Linked DNA regions of Homo sapiens. The protein of the gene in region 1 interacts with the protein of each later gene in a biochemical or structural test. Each region holds a gene or a part of one and is shown on either strand. Other genes may lie near its edges.

Region 1 (7,000 bases):
GGTCCCTGATCTGTGATCTTCACTGAAGCTGCAAGTGTGAAAAGCTTGAAATGCCACAGGGCACCCGCATTTTAACCCAGGAGATACAGAAATCAAAACTGGAAACCTACCAGGAATTGATCTCAGCTGGAAGCAGAGAGAGGCATGATATTTGAAGGAGGACACCCAGACCCTTCACCATCCCCTTAGGCCTCCCTGGAGCTCCATTTTGGAGACAGGAGTCTGAGGTGGTCTGTGGTGCCTCCCAGTCCCTTGCCAGAGCAGAGACGGAAAGAATGGGTGACAGATGGCCACAAACTCTGTCTCTGTAACCCCCTGGAAGATTCCACCTGTCATGGCAAGACATGGCAAGCTGTGTCATCTAGGCAGTGATGAGTGAGCACCATTGGGTGGGCAGCTCGGAGGAGGGGAGTGCCTGAGCAAAGGTTCGGGAGGTGGGAAAGTGTGGTGGAGGGGCTTGTGGGGCAGGGAGTGCACCCTTCAAAACCCAGAGGTACATGACACACATTGCTTTACAAAGCGACTGTTATCAGATAACAGGGGTTGAGGAAACGGAAGACAAATTTTGTCTGGGGAGAGAATTACAGAAGAGGGGCAAAAGTATAAAGGGGGCTGCCCACAGAACCCCATCCTTGGGGCCTGGGTCACCTAGGGGATTGGGGGCATCTGTGTGTTCAGAAAGAGCCTTAACATGGGGTAAATGACACCCAAGGCCCCTTAACTTCCTGTTGGCCCCCAGCTATCTGATCCTATTAGGGAGTAACCTTTAGAAGAGAGTGGGGGGCCATGCGTTATCATCTTGTTATTGGGTAATTGATTGGTGCTGCTCTGATGGCCAACTCCAGAATGTCCTGTTGATACAACTATTGCCCCGAACCAGCATTTATTCTGAGAACCAGGAAGTCGAATTTCTCCTGCCCACCAGGAGTGTCTGAAACATGGATGTTTTCCCCCAAGATTGGAGCCAAAGATGAAAATCACAACTTTAATGACTTCCAAACTGGATCTCCCCTCCGTCCTACCCCACAGTGGGCCCTTCTGGTGGTTTGGTTGTTGCCAATCAAGCTAGAGGGACTCTCAGGCCAGGCAGGGAAAGTGGTGTGTCCCCCAACAGCTCCCTAATTGCCCTCAGGTGACATGCTGTCCTATTTAAAAGGTCCCTCAAGAAAGTCCTGCCCTCTGTACCCCAGCCCAGCCCTGCTGGAAGCCAGTGTACAGCTTCACATCTTCTGTCCTCTCCAACGTGCAGAGCTTGTCTGTGGTCTTGTACCTTTGCCCATGAGGTTCTTTCTGCCCTTTTTACAGGGCTCACCTCTTCCATGTAGCCTTCTATCCATGCCAGCTCACAGAGATTCCTCCTTTTTGAATATTCATAGCCTTTTTCACATGAACCGCTTGTTTGCCTAGCAATTTGAAAGAAGCCAAAACCTCTTTAATATCATGACTTCCTACTTCAGTTACAAACTTCCAAAGAAAGGGGTCAGGTCTTTTAGTTCCATATCCTTGTGTCCTACATGCACTTGGCACTCCATAAATGCTTGAGGCCAATGATACGCTGATTGAAGGCTGCACAGCCTTTTCTTTTGTGTCCCTGGAGCCCCTGAATTTCTGGAGGTGTTTACAAGGTGGCCTAGATCACAGGGCGGGGCTAAGTAGGGGGAGACCCAGGGCTTGGGGGGCTAGGAGCCCAACTCCATTCCGCAGCAGCTGGTGACCCCCACCACAAGGCTACCACACTCCTCTCCAAGTCTGGAAAGCAGAGGCCACCCAGGCAATTGAGTAGGGACCCTGCTTGGCCCCAACTCCCCTAATTTTATCCTCCCCAGCTGTGCTCCTGATACTTGTCAGGGAGAAAGGATGGGGGAAGGAGAGGCCAGCCCTGGATACTGTGTCTCAGCCGGAAGAATGGAGAATAGCTTGGTGTACAGACTTGGGGGAGCCCTGGGGCATCAGTGGGTCCCAAATGCGGGTCTCTGGACCACTGAGAAACTGGGAAAATAAGGGTGGCCTGTGTGTGTGTGTGTGTGTGTGTGTGTGTGTGTGTGTCAGCATCAGTGTCAGCCATGGCTGCCAACGTGTCTTTTCTTAGGCAGAACTGTCCTTTGCTGGTTTGGAAGAGGCGTGGGTGTTTGCATGTTGTAGGTCATCAGTAGGGCTAGAGAATCTGGGGTCCTGTCTCCTCTAGTATTTTAGGATTTTATTCTAGGAAGCTGCTCCCTTCCCTCTGGACCTCATTTTCCCATCTGAGAAAAGAGCTCCATGTTCTCAAGGTCCCTGCTCGCTCTGACAGTCGGCTCCCTGAGTTACCAGCTAGCAGGCAACGGAAGCTGGTGTCCTAGAGTAATAGCATTCAGGGGATCAAAGTGCCCATTGGAGCTGAAGTGGCCCATGGAACAGTCTAGAACATGCAGGCACTTTCACAAGAAACAAAGACCCATCCAGGAGACTTTTGGCTCATTACCCTGACCAAGCTACCTGGAAGGAAATGGTTTTTCTTTTTCTTTTTGTTATTGCTGTGGTTTTATTTTGAAAAACCTAGTCTTGAAAAAAGTACATTTGGTTTTGGGAGCCCACTTTGGGGCAGGACCCATGGCTCCTTGCCAAGTGGACAGTGAGCTGGGAAGGTTTCTCAGGCGGGGAGCCCTGGTGTGGCTGGAGTAGCCTCTCGAGGGTGGCTGGGCTGGTAAGGTGGAGCCTGCCTGGCCATCAGCTGTGGGAGCTGTGGAGGTGCTGAGGAGATCGCAGACAGCCGGGGATACGGGGCCTGGCTGTTTAGAGACCGTCTGTGAAGCCTGCCCCTGTCAGGGTTGGAGTCTGAGGGGCGGCCCTACCAACAGAGGATGAGACAGGTGTCCAGGCTGAGGGATGGCGCTCTCTGCCAGGCCTCGGTCTCCCTGCCCAGGGCTGCCCAGAGATAGCCAACGCGTCCCTGTGCAGGTGGGGGCGGCAGTGACGCTGTGTGCCTCCCTCCCCACGCACAGTGTAGTACAGCGAAGCCAGTCCGTCCCTCCTGCCAGCGTGGCCTTGATGGAGAAGAGAGGAGTGACGGGTACATGGGAGGCCTTCCCTCAGCCTGGCGTCCACAGGGCAGTGGGAAGGCATTACTATCTGTGTGGTGTCAGCGTTTATACAAGAGTCTGGAAGCCACCACTGTGTCCTCTCCTCTACTCTCCTGCCAGTAGGGCCTCTGTGCAGCCTTGGCATGTTTCCTCTCCACAGGGGTAGGGGTTGGAGGGACTGCCCCCAAAGCAGAAACAGTGCTGATAGTCAGAAGCTTTGAACATGGCTGCAGAACCCCCTGCCCCAATTTGACCTCAGTAATACCCAGGGGTGCCCCCACCTCAACCAGTACATGTTTAATGGAATGAACGAGCCTGCAATGAAATGTCGGTTCTCTTTTTAGCAGAAATGGCCTAGGCCGTGGTTGTGGTCAAGGCCTGTTGTCTGTAAGTGACGTGACGGCACACACTCAGGCCACATCCTATGGGGTAATGGTGCTTGCATCCCCACCTTCTGGAACTGAGAGAGCCCCAGAGCCTGGCTCTACACACAGGCCTGGAGCCATGGGGAAGCAAGGATTCCAGTAGAGGGGGGTGGGAGTGGGGCCTTTGAGCCCATCCTCGAGGGGCTGCCCTAGGGGGGCTCTCCTAGAGGATACTCCCCTGTGAAGGTGGCCTCCATTTTGCTACTGACTCTGGGACGTTTAGCAAAGCTGAGAACTTTTTATTCCCTAGTTAAGAGATGCGCCACCCTACCTCCCGACTGACATTTAACACGGGGTGTCAGGCACTGATGCGAAAGCCTGTTCTCTGAAAGATAAGCTGGAGAGAGGGGTGGACAGAGGGCACCCCAACAGTAGCAGAGAAGCCTTCCCCTCCTCCAAAGTTTCCCAGAGCTAAATTGTTCTGTGAGTCAGTAAGTGTGCTTCTTCACCCATCTTCACGGACTGAAGAAATAAAGGGCTTTGCATCTGAAATTCACAATCTGATGATCTCTGGCTACAGGGAACAAGCTGTCAAGAAAGAGTCACCGGGGACCTTTTCCCCTAACCTCCATGTTCCCAGCTTCCTTAATCTCAGTCAATGTCAGAGATTGATAATGTAAATTTCTCTAGGGATGTTGCAGTTCAAAGCAAGGACTTATCTCTCTACCGATGGCATCTGGTGACAGCATTTATTATCGTTGCTTCTTTCTGTTCTTGACATTTTTGACGGAGCATCCATCTAAACTATACTCAAGGACTCTTCTCGCAATGGATATCTTCTCATTTATCTTCACCCATCCTCCTAATCATCATCCAGACATCCACCTGTCCATTCTATTCACCATCCATCCATCTAGCCATCTACTTATCCACCCATCCATCCATACATCCACCCATCAACCCACCCTTCATCCATCCATCCACCTATCCACCCATCGACCTATCCACCCTCCCACGCTTCTATCCATCCATTTATCTATCCATCCATGCATCCATCCATCCATCCACTCACCTACCCTTCCATCCTTCCATCTATCAATCCATCTATTTACTGAGCACCTGAACACCTAGGAGTTTCCAGTTTATCTACTAAGGAAAATGATTTGATTTGGATGTTTGTCCCCTCCAAATCTCATGTTGAAATGTGATCCCCAGTGTTGGAGGTAGGGCCTGGTGGGAGGTGTTAGGGTCATGGGGGCAGATCCATCATGAATGACTTGGTGCCATCCTCACAGTAATGAGTGAGTTCTCAGTTCACATGAGATCTGGTTGTTTACAAGAGCCTGGCACCTCCCTGCTCTCTCCCTCTTGCTGCCTTTCTCGCCATGTGACATACCTGCTCCCCCTTCCCCTTCCACCATGATTGGAGGCTTCCTGAGCCTCACCAGGAGTAGATGCTGGCACCATACTTCTCATACAGCCTGCAGAACCATGAGCCAAAATAAACCTCTTTTCTTTGTAAATTACCCAGCCTCAGGTATTCCTTTATAGTGAGGCAAAATGGACCAACACAGAAAATAAGAGAAATATGTGCGTATTTAAAGCACAGGGTACTGTATAAAAAGCTGCCGAACTTCTGTTACAGTTGGCTGTGCAGAGTGAGTAGGGAGGACTCCTTGACAGAGCTGGCATGTGAATTGGATCTTGAAAGATACGTAGGATTTTAACCACTGAAATCAAGCATATGCAGAGAAGCGTATTGCAGATAGGAGAAACGCACCGAGTGGGAAAGGACAAGTTGTGTGTGGGAGCCCTAAGAATCTGGGGTGGGGGCAGAGAGAAGATTCCATGTGTGATGGGCCTGGAAAGGTGGTTGGGGCCCCCTTGGCTATGGGTGGGCAAGTTTGACTTTTACCATGGTGGTGAAGACCACAGTTCTGTTCTTCCGGGCAAGACACTGAAACAGAACCTGCCAGAGCACCTTCTTCCCCCTCCTCTGTTAGGTAAAAGTCAATCTCTATAGCCCACTGTTGTTGCCAGGGTTACCTGAGATGATGATGTTCTTGTCTCTTTGGGTTGTGAGACCGGTGGGGGGCTCTCACCTGTATGTATGTGGTGTGTGTGTGTGTGTGTGCATGTGCTATTGATTTTCCAAAAAATGTATTATAGACTTTAAAAGTTCATACACAGACACACCCAAAACAGGGAAATTTAAAGCATCAAACATTTTTATCACCCGGTGCAAGTACGTGTTACCTTGTATTCTTTTTTCACTGAGTGTTACCTCTGGTACACATTCCTGTGTGCTGTGTTGTGGACCTATGTTGCCTACCTGCCATCTTCGATGGTGTCATCATATTATGATCATTTTAATGGTCAGAGTTATTTCATGTGTCTATCTTGACTTCTTTCCAAGTCCCCTCTGTTTTAAATGAAACTCCTGAAAACTTCTGTGGATCTAGGGTTTAGGGACCATTTCCTTGAGATCTGTCACCATCCTGGAGCCTTTGAGTCCAAGAGTGAAGCAGAGCCTGCTGATTGGCCCCTGAATTTTTGCTGGGTGTAAGTTTTAGCTGAACATTTCCCAATTTTCTTGCAGCTAGGTGTGGCCATATGACTAAGTTCAGGACAGTGAGATATAAGTGGGGAGTATAATTTGCTTGGAGAACCCCTTAATGGGGGTGTCCTTCTCTCCTTTCCTCTCTCCTGTTGCCTGAAATACAGATGTGATGGCTGGAGTTGAAGTGGCCATCTTGGACTCTGAGACAAACTTAAGCATAGAAGCTATGCAGGATAGAACAACAATATATTATAGTAAGGGTCCCAAACATGTCAGACCATCATCCCAGCTACAGACTGCTTACCAGTTTTTTATGAGAGGAATACATACTATCTTGTTTGTTTGTTTTATTTTATTTTATTTTTGAGATGTAGTTTTGCTCTTGTCACCCAGGCTGGAGTGCAGTGGCGATCTTGGCTCACTGCAACCTCTGCCTCCTGGGTTCAAGCAATTCTCCTGCCTCAGCCTTCCGAGTAGCTGGGATTACAGGTGCCTGCCACCACTCTTGGCTAGTTTTTGTATTTTTAGTAGAGACGGGGGTTTCACCATGTTGGCCAGGCTGGTCTTGAACTCCTGTCCTCAGGTGATCCACCCATCCTGGCCTCCCAAAGTGCTGGGATTACAGGCGTGAGCCACCGTGCCTAGCCATACTATCTTGTTTTAATTTCTTATTTTAGATTTTCTATCACTTACAAGCTTAGTTCTAATGAACACAGAGAGCTTTCTATCTCTGTCACATAGCACCAGATTATATGCCCGAAGTACTCAGCTGCTTTGCAGGGCGACCTGCAAGTCCCCATTTCCTAGTGGAGGCAAGAAGGAGGAAGAGAGGGGAGAGAGAAGAGGCAGCTTTGCATCCACTAAGGCTCTTGTTTCAAGGACTAGATTGCAAACATTTTTTTTTCATATTAAGTGTTTATGAGTTTTAGATTTTGCCAGAAGCTTTGAACTGTTTATTCTGACTCTCAAATCCTTGTGCTTTGACAGGGCTAGGTTTGCTGCTCAAGGCAGCCATG
Region 2 (7,041 bases), on another chromosome or scaffold:
GATTCTCCTGCCTCAGCCTCCAGAGTAGCTGGGATTACAGGCGTGCACCACCACGACCAGCTAATTTTTGTATTATTAGTAGAGACGGGATTTGACCATGTTGGCCAGGCTGGACTCTAACTCCTGACCTCAGGTGATCCACGTGCCTCAGCCTCCCAAAGCACTGGGATTACAGGAGTGAGCCACCGCGCCTGGCCGTGTGTGCGTGTGTGTGTGTGTGTTTTAATCCTATCTAATTTTTCCAACAGTTTTTTGCATCCTAAGAGAGTTTAGGAGTAGAATTATCAATAAGGAATTTCATACATAGACCTGGAGTTGCAAAAATATATTTGGAGAAGAGAGCTTTCCCATTGCCCTTCAAGTCATACCTCATATCTTTTAAAATTTTTTTCCTGGACAATCCCTACTGCATAACATACCTCATATCTTCTAACTCTTACTTTACCTGGGAGCAAATATTGCTTATTGGTATGAATTTTACTTCTGAGAAGGAGGCATAGGGTAGAAGAAGCAAGCGTATAGTTTGCTCCCTAATCCTAAAGCATTTCAGATTGGAAGGTAACCAAAGTGTGAGACAATGAACTTATAATAAGGAAATGCAGCAGCCCTCTTGGAGGAAGGATACCATAAAACCCTACATGGTATACTCCCACTTCCGTTTTGGGAAAGATTTAGCCATTGACTCAACAGTAACTGAACTGAATAAGGAGCTACCCAGGTGAACAAAGTATGTGTACATTTCTGGGCAAGGTTGTAGCTTCTGTTCAGGGACAGTGGGTACCTTTTCAGAGTGTCTCCTGGTTCTGTGGTGTTATGGCTCCTTTTTTTAAACTTGTGTTTCTCAAGTCAGGAATTAATAGATAGTGGCCCAAAGCTTTTGACCGTTCAACATCAACTGAAAATTCAGCGAACTTTGTTTTTAGCTATAGTTGCCTCAGTGTTTGGGTGGGAGGGCCACATATTGGGTGTGATTAGGCCATCTGAGGCATAGTAACGGGTGACAGGAAAAGCAGTTAGCCCATGCGAGTTGCAATAGTACCTTGTGGGCAAGATCCCAAGGGGGCCCTCCATCCAAGGGAGATCACAGAGGAGCCAGGGAGAGAATTGATTCTGAGGCCTATTAAAAATATTCCCAAATGGGGCCGTGTGCGGTGGCATGCGCCTGTAATCCCAGCACTTTGGGAGGCTGAGGCGGGTGGATCACGAGGTCAGGAGATTGAGACCATCCTGGCTAACACGGTGAAACCCCGTCTCTACTAAACAAAATACAAAAAATTAGCTGGGCGTGGTGGTGGGCGCCTGTAGTCCCCCAGCTTCTCGGGAGGCTGAAGCAGGAGAATGGCGTGAACCTGGGAGGCAGAGCTTGCAGTGAGCCGAGATCGCGTCACTGCACTCCAGCCTGGGCGACTGAGCAAGACTCCGTCTCAGGAAAAAAAAAAAAGAACCCAAATGGAATTGAGTAAGATCTGTCCAGATGGTACAGAAAGGGAGGAGTTGATTGGGGGAGAGAAGTAGAATTACTTAGCCTTAATTTAGGGAGCATTTAATGAGCACCTACTAGGGATCAGGCAGCATGCTGTGCTCTGAAGATTTTAAGATAAACTCCCACTTTTAAAGAAGTTCATAGTTTAGCAGAGCAGACAGACACAATTTATATACTGTGATAATGTGATACATACTATTATAGAAATACAGTCTTTTTTTTTTTTTTTTGAGACGGATTCTTGCTTTGCTGTCCAGGCTGGAGTACAGTGGTGCAATCTGTGCTCACTGCAACCTCCGCCTCCCGGGCTCAAGCAATTCTCATGTCTCAGCCTCCTGGGTAACTGGGATTACAAGCCTGTGCCAACATGCCCAGCTAATTTTTGTATTTTTAGTAGAGACGGGGTTTCACCATATTGGCCAGGCTGGTCTCGAACTCCTAACCTCCAGTGATCCATCTGCCTTGGCCTCTCAAAGTGCTGGGATTACAGGTGTGCGCCACCACACCTGGCCAGAAATACAGTCTTAATACTGTGGGACCCTACGGGCCTCTAGAGAATGATTAATTCTGTGGGGGAGAGGGTGATTATGTAATTTCACTGAAGTAACATTTGAGCTTGGTCTTATGAGATATATAGAATTTTGCTAGGCAGACAAGTAGGGACGGGCATTCCAATCTTACCTAGGTCAATAATAGGGAGTTTGTACTACCATACTGATAAGAGGTAAGTATGCTTTTTGCCTCTTGGAGAAATATAAGGGAAAGGGTGCGAGATGTGGAAGGAATCTCATTTAATCCAATGACTCATTAGGTAACACTGGATCAACAAAATGAAGAGCTGAGCCAAGTGGTAGAACTCTCATTTCAAGATTTTGGTGACTTGGGTTTAAACAGAGTTGGAGAGGGAGATGAAGGTATTTACTGGTTTCTGCTCTATCTTCCCTACTTAGTAAAACTCTCACATTAATCGCAGGGCCCACCAAATTCTGCAAAAGTTACCGCTTGTTTTCCTATTGCCTCTCATTGAATTGCTTCTATTTCAACTGTCCTGGCAGGGTTTGGTCATAGACCTTCTAGAAAAGAGTAGTGATGAATTAATTCTTCTGTCAGAAAGATATGGGACTGCATCCCAGTTGCCAAGGAAGGCCTGGGTCTTCTTAATTTGTTTTTAGTCCCAAAGCAAGTACTTACCTAAACTGAATAGAGGCAGGAACTCTATCCAGTCTAAGCTCTCGATCCTGTCCTGGTGTTCTCTTTAGAGTTCAGCATTTCCTGCTTCCTTAAGAAGTATAGTGGTATAAGAGGCAGGAGTACCTGACTAGGAGTCCTACATTTACTGCTTAGCAGTTGGCTGTATGGTAACACTTGACAAGTTGACTAATTTTATTTTATTTTTTATTTATTTATTTATTTTTTGTGCAAATGGTGGCCTTTAATACCAAGAAAGACCATGACAAGTGACAGAACAGGAGCAAATTCCCTAGTGTAGTGCCGAGCTAGCCCTTTGCAGGACCCTAAAACCTGATCTAGTAACAGAATAAATCAGTGTATTTACATTTATGTTTGCCCTGAAAACCCAGGTAAGGTCTGAAGCCTGAGGCATCTCTCCTTCCTTTCCTCCTCCCTCTCTTCCTACCTCCTTGCCTTCGTTCACTTCCTCAATTCATTCCTCTCCCTTCTCCCTTCCTCTCTTTTCCTTCTTTTCCTTTCTGCTTTTCCCTTTTCTCCTTTTTCTCCTCATTCTCTTTACCATCTACCTATGTGTCCCTCCAAGCCCCTCTGCTATTTCTCCCCTGCTCACTCCCTCTGCTGTTGTCTCCCTCAGGTTCAGCTTCCGGGGTGGGGAGGCAAGAAAGGGTCCTCAGCTCAGGGAGCACTTGTTGGTGTTCTTTATGTCACAAGTTTTCAGGTCAGTACTGGGAGGCTTGTTGCCGTTTCCTGATCTCCGGCCTCCTGACTTGAGCAAGATGTCCCGGGCCAGGGAACTAAAAGCCTCATCCACATTCATACTGGATTTAGCACTAGTTTCGAAAAATCGGATTCCATGCTCTCGAGCCAACTTATCGGCCTGCTCCTTCTGCACCTTCCTCTTGGCCTCCATGTCACATTTGTTCCCTAGCAAGAGGTGCTCCACCCCAGCTGAGGCATTCTCCATGATGCTTTTCATCCAGTTCTGAATATTCTCGAAAGATTTCTCATCCGTGATGTCGTATGCTAGGATAATGCCCATGGCTCCACGGTAGTAGGCAGTAGTTATTGTCTTGAACCGCTCTTGGCCAGCTGTGTCCCAGACTTGTAGTTTGATCTTCTTCCCCTCTATATCCACAGTGCGGATCTTGAAATCAATTCCGATGGTGGAGATGTAAGTGTTGTTGAAGTTGTCCTCTGCAAAGCGAATGATCAGACAAGTCTTGCCCACCCCCGAGTCCCCGATCAGCAGCAACTTGAAGAGGTGGTCGTAGGCTTTGGCCATGGCGGACACCGGGGGAGCCGGGGAAGGGATGGGGCTATTTATTTATTTTTGAGACGGAATCGCTCTGTTGTCCAGGCTGGAGTGCAGTCGTGTGATCTCGGCTCACTGCTACCTCTGCCTCCCAGGTTCAAGCAATTCTCGTGCCTCAGCCTCCTGAGTAGCTGGGATTACAGGCACGCACCACCACACCCAGCTAATTTTTGTATTTTTAGTAGAGACAGGTTTTCACCACGTTGGCCAGGCTGGTCTCAAACTCCTGACCTCAGGTGATCTGCCCATCTCGCCCTCCCAAAGTGCTAGGATTACAGGTGTAAGCCACCACGCCTAGCCCAAATTGACTAATTGTATGTGTCTCGGTTTCCTCACCTATAAAATATAGAGACTGGACTAAATGACCTCTAGACTGGCTCTGATCTGCCTGACTGACCTTAAGGCTGACAACTGGTACTGGGTTGGACTCCAGTGGCTATATATACCGAGAACTCTGTCTCTGTTGATAGGTGATAGACTTCTGGAGACTTCATATGTATTTGGTTTAGGGACTCAAAGCTAACAAGTGGAAGGGGGCTTGAGGAATGGAGTCTTACTCTAGCTGGGACTGCTAAGACACTTTTACTGTTATGCCTACTTTGCTGCACTGCTTGGGAGAGTTGCCCACATTAAAGAACATCCTCCATGGGTCTCCTGCATCTAGTGGGCTAACCCATGGTCAGGCCTCAATCCTCCCTAGTTAATGGGTCATTTTATAAGTCATTCTTGTAGAGCCGTACTTCTTTTTTTTTTTTTTTGATGGAGTCTTGCTCTGTCACCCAGGCTGGAGTGCAGTGGCAAAGTCTCGACCCACTGCAGCCTCTGCCTCCCAGGTTCAAGCAATTCTCCTGCTTCAGCCTCCCAAGTAGCTGAGATTACAGGTGTCAGCCACCACACCTGGCTAATTTTTGTGTTTTTAATAGAGACGGGGTTTCACCATGTTCGCCAGACTGGTGTTGAATTCCTGACCTTAGGTGATCCGCCCACCTCAGCCTCCCAAAGTGCTGGGATTTCAGGCATGAGTCACTGCACCCGGCAGAGCTGCACTTCTAAGGGAAGTTAAATCTGATTTCTTCTCTTCTGAGCTAAAAAGGTTGAAAGGAAGAGAAACCTGCCCCATCTCCCTTTTTTTTGTCTCGGGTTTGAAGGTAATAATCATCATACCACTTGACTGGTTTACCAAAAAAAAAAAAAAAAATTAGTATTTTTGTGGGAAAAAATGAGAATAGAAAATAAATAATTGAATCTTATATGTATTATTTCATTTCTGTACCACAGAATTTTTGAGAGTCTAGCTATTATATTTTTTAAATGATACCCTTATAAACATGATAAGATTAAAGATCAAAGCTTAGAGGTGGCTCAACAATTGCTGTGAACAGGGAGGAAGGCAGGACATATTCTTTCTTTTTCAGAGGTGGGATCTCACTATGTTGCCCAGGCTGGTCTCAAACTCCTGGGCTCAAGTGATCCTCCTGCCTTGGCCTCCCAAAATGCTGGTATTACAGGCGTGAACCATGATGTGCAGCCAGAACATACTCTTAAGGCTACATATTAGGGTACGAGGTAGTCTTTTCTAAGTCAGTAGTTACTGATCTCTGAGAATCCAAGGTTGCTTAGTAGCAAGAAAGCTTGCTGACCACATCTGGGCTCTGGCTTGACTTCCCATCTCTGAGAGTTAGTGACAGAGACTTTGCAACTCAAGCGTGTCTGCAATTGTTTCCTGTCTTTACACTCCCCCAGAGCTCAAGTGATATGTTTAGCCATGAGAATTCAGTCCATTCTAACTCCCACATTTTCCTTTATTGTAGAGTAGTAACATTGAGGCTTAATATTCTACCCCTTGGATCACATGCTTTGAAATACATAAAAATGTAAGGGAGTAAGTTGAAAAAACCAGTAACTTTTTCTATTGTTTCTTGAGAGTATAGCATATATATGTCACCTGAAGGAAACTTGATCAGCTTATCATCTGTCCTTTTTTTTTTATTATGGTGTCACCTGTCTTCTCTTTTATTTATTTTTTATTTTGAGAGACGGAGTCTTGCTCTGTTGCCCAGGCTGGAGTACAGTGGCATAATCTCAGCTCACTGCAACCTCCGCCCTCTGGGTTCAAGCGATTCTCCTGCCTCAGCTTCCCAAGTAGCTGGGACTACAGGCATGTGGCGCTACACCCAGCTAATTTTTGTATTTTTTAGTAGAGACGGGGTTTCACTATATGTTGGCCAGGCTGGTCTCAAACTCCTGACCTCTCAAACACCAGAGTGAGACTCTCTCTAAAAATGGAAAATAAATTTTAAAATGTTATAATTAAAGATACTCATTTAAATTGAATAAATTTAGCTTTATGAAAAATTTGCTGTATCATCTTTATTTTGATCCTTTCGTCATAGGCCATTGAAAACTTAATCATAAAATGGTACATGTATATCTGAATTTTTAAGACTGACTGACCAAGGGGACTACAGAATACCCAGTAGAATCAAAGTAATTGTCATGTTCCTCTGTATTAATCTAGTCTACTTTGGGACCTTGAGTTCTCACCTCTCATTCTTTTGCTAACTTCCTCTTTACCCTTTAGTTATGTCTCCTTTTTTTTTTTTTTTTTTTTCCAGAGATAGCGTCTTGTTCTGTCGCCCAGGCTGGAGTGCAGTGGTGTAATCAGCTCACTACAACCTTCAACTCCTGGGCTCCAGTGATTCTCCCACCACAGCCTCTGGAGTAGCTGGGATTACAGGCACATACCACCATGCCCAGCTAATTTTTTTAAATGTTTTCTAGAGACTCAGTCTCGCTATGTTGCCTAGGCTGGTCTCAAACTCCTCACCTCAAGCAAGGCTTCCCCTTTTATCTCCCAAACCCCTGGGATTACAGGCATGGGCCGCTCTGCCAGGCCTGTTTTTTCTCTTTTTCTTTCTCTGTACCACTTTCATATTGTGGCTTCTTCCCTGCCCCCGATCTCCCCCCTACCCACCCCAGGTGGAGTCTTGCTCTGTTACCCAGGCTGGAGTGTGGTGGCACGATCTCGGCTCACTGCAACCTCCGCCTCCCGGGT

What was found.
Region 2: the proteins of RIN3 (region 1) and RAB5B form a complex in vitro, tested with the Homo sapiens proteins (one study listed by BioGRID).

The regions. Positions count from the first base shown.
Region 1 is NC_000014.9:92,516,781-92,523,780, forward strand, and holds part of RIN3 (ras and Rab interactor 3), read left to right. Parts: intron 1-7,000. UniProt on the Homo sapiens protein: Ras effector protein that functions as a guanine nucleotide exchange (GEF) for RAB5B and RAB31, by exchanging bound GDP for free GTP. Required for normal RAB31 function.
Region 2 is NC_000012.12:55,977,078-55,984,118, forward strand, and holds part of RAB5B (ras-related protein Rab-5B), read left to right. Parts: intron 1-2,294; coding exon of another isoform or gene 2,295-2,397; intron 2,398-7,041. UniProt on the Homo sapiens protein: The small GTPases Rab are key regulators of intracellular membrane trafficking, from the formation of transport vesicles to their fusion with membranes.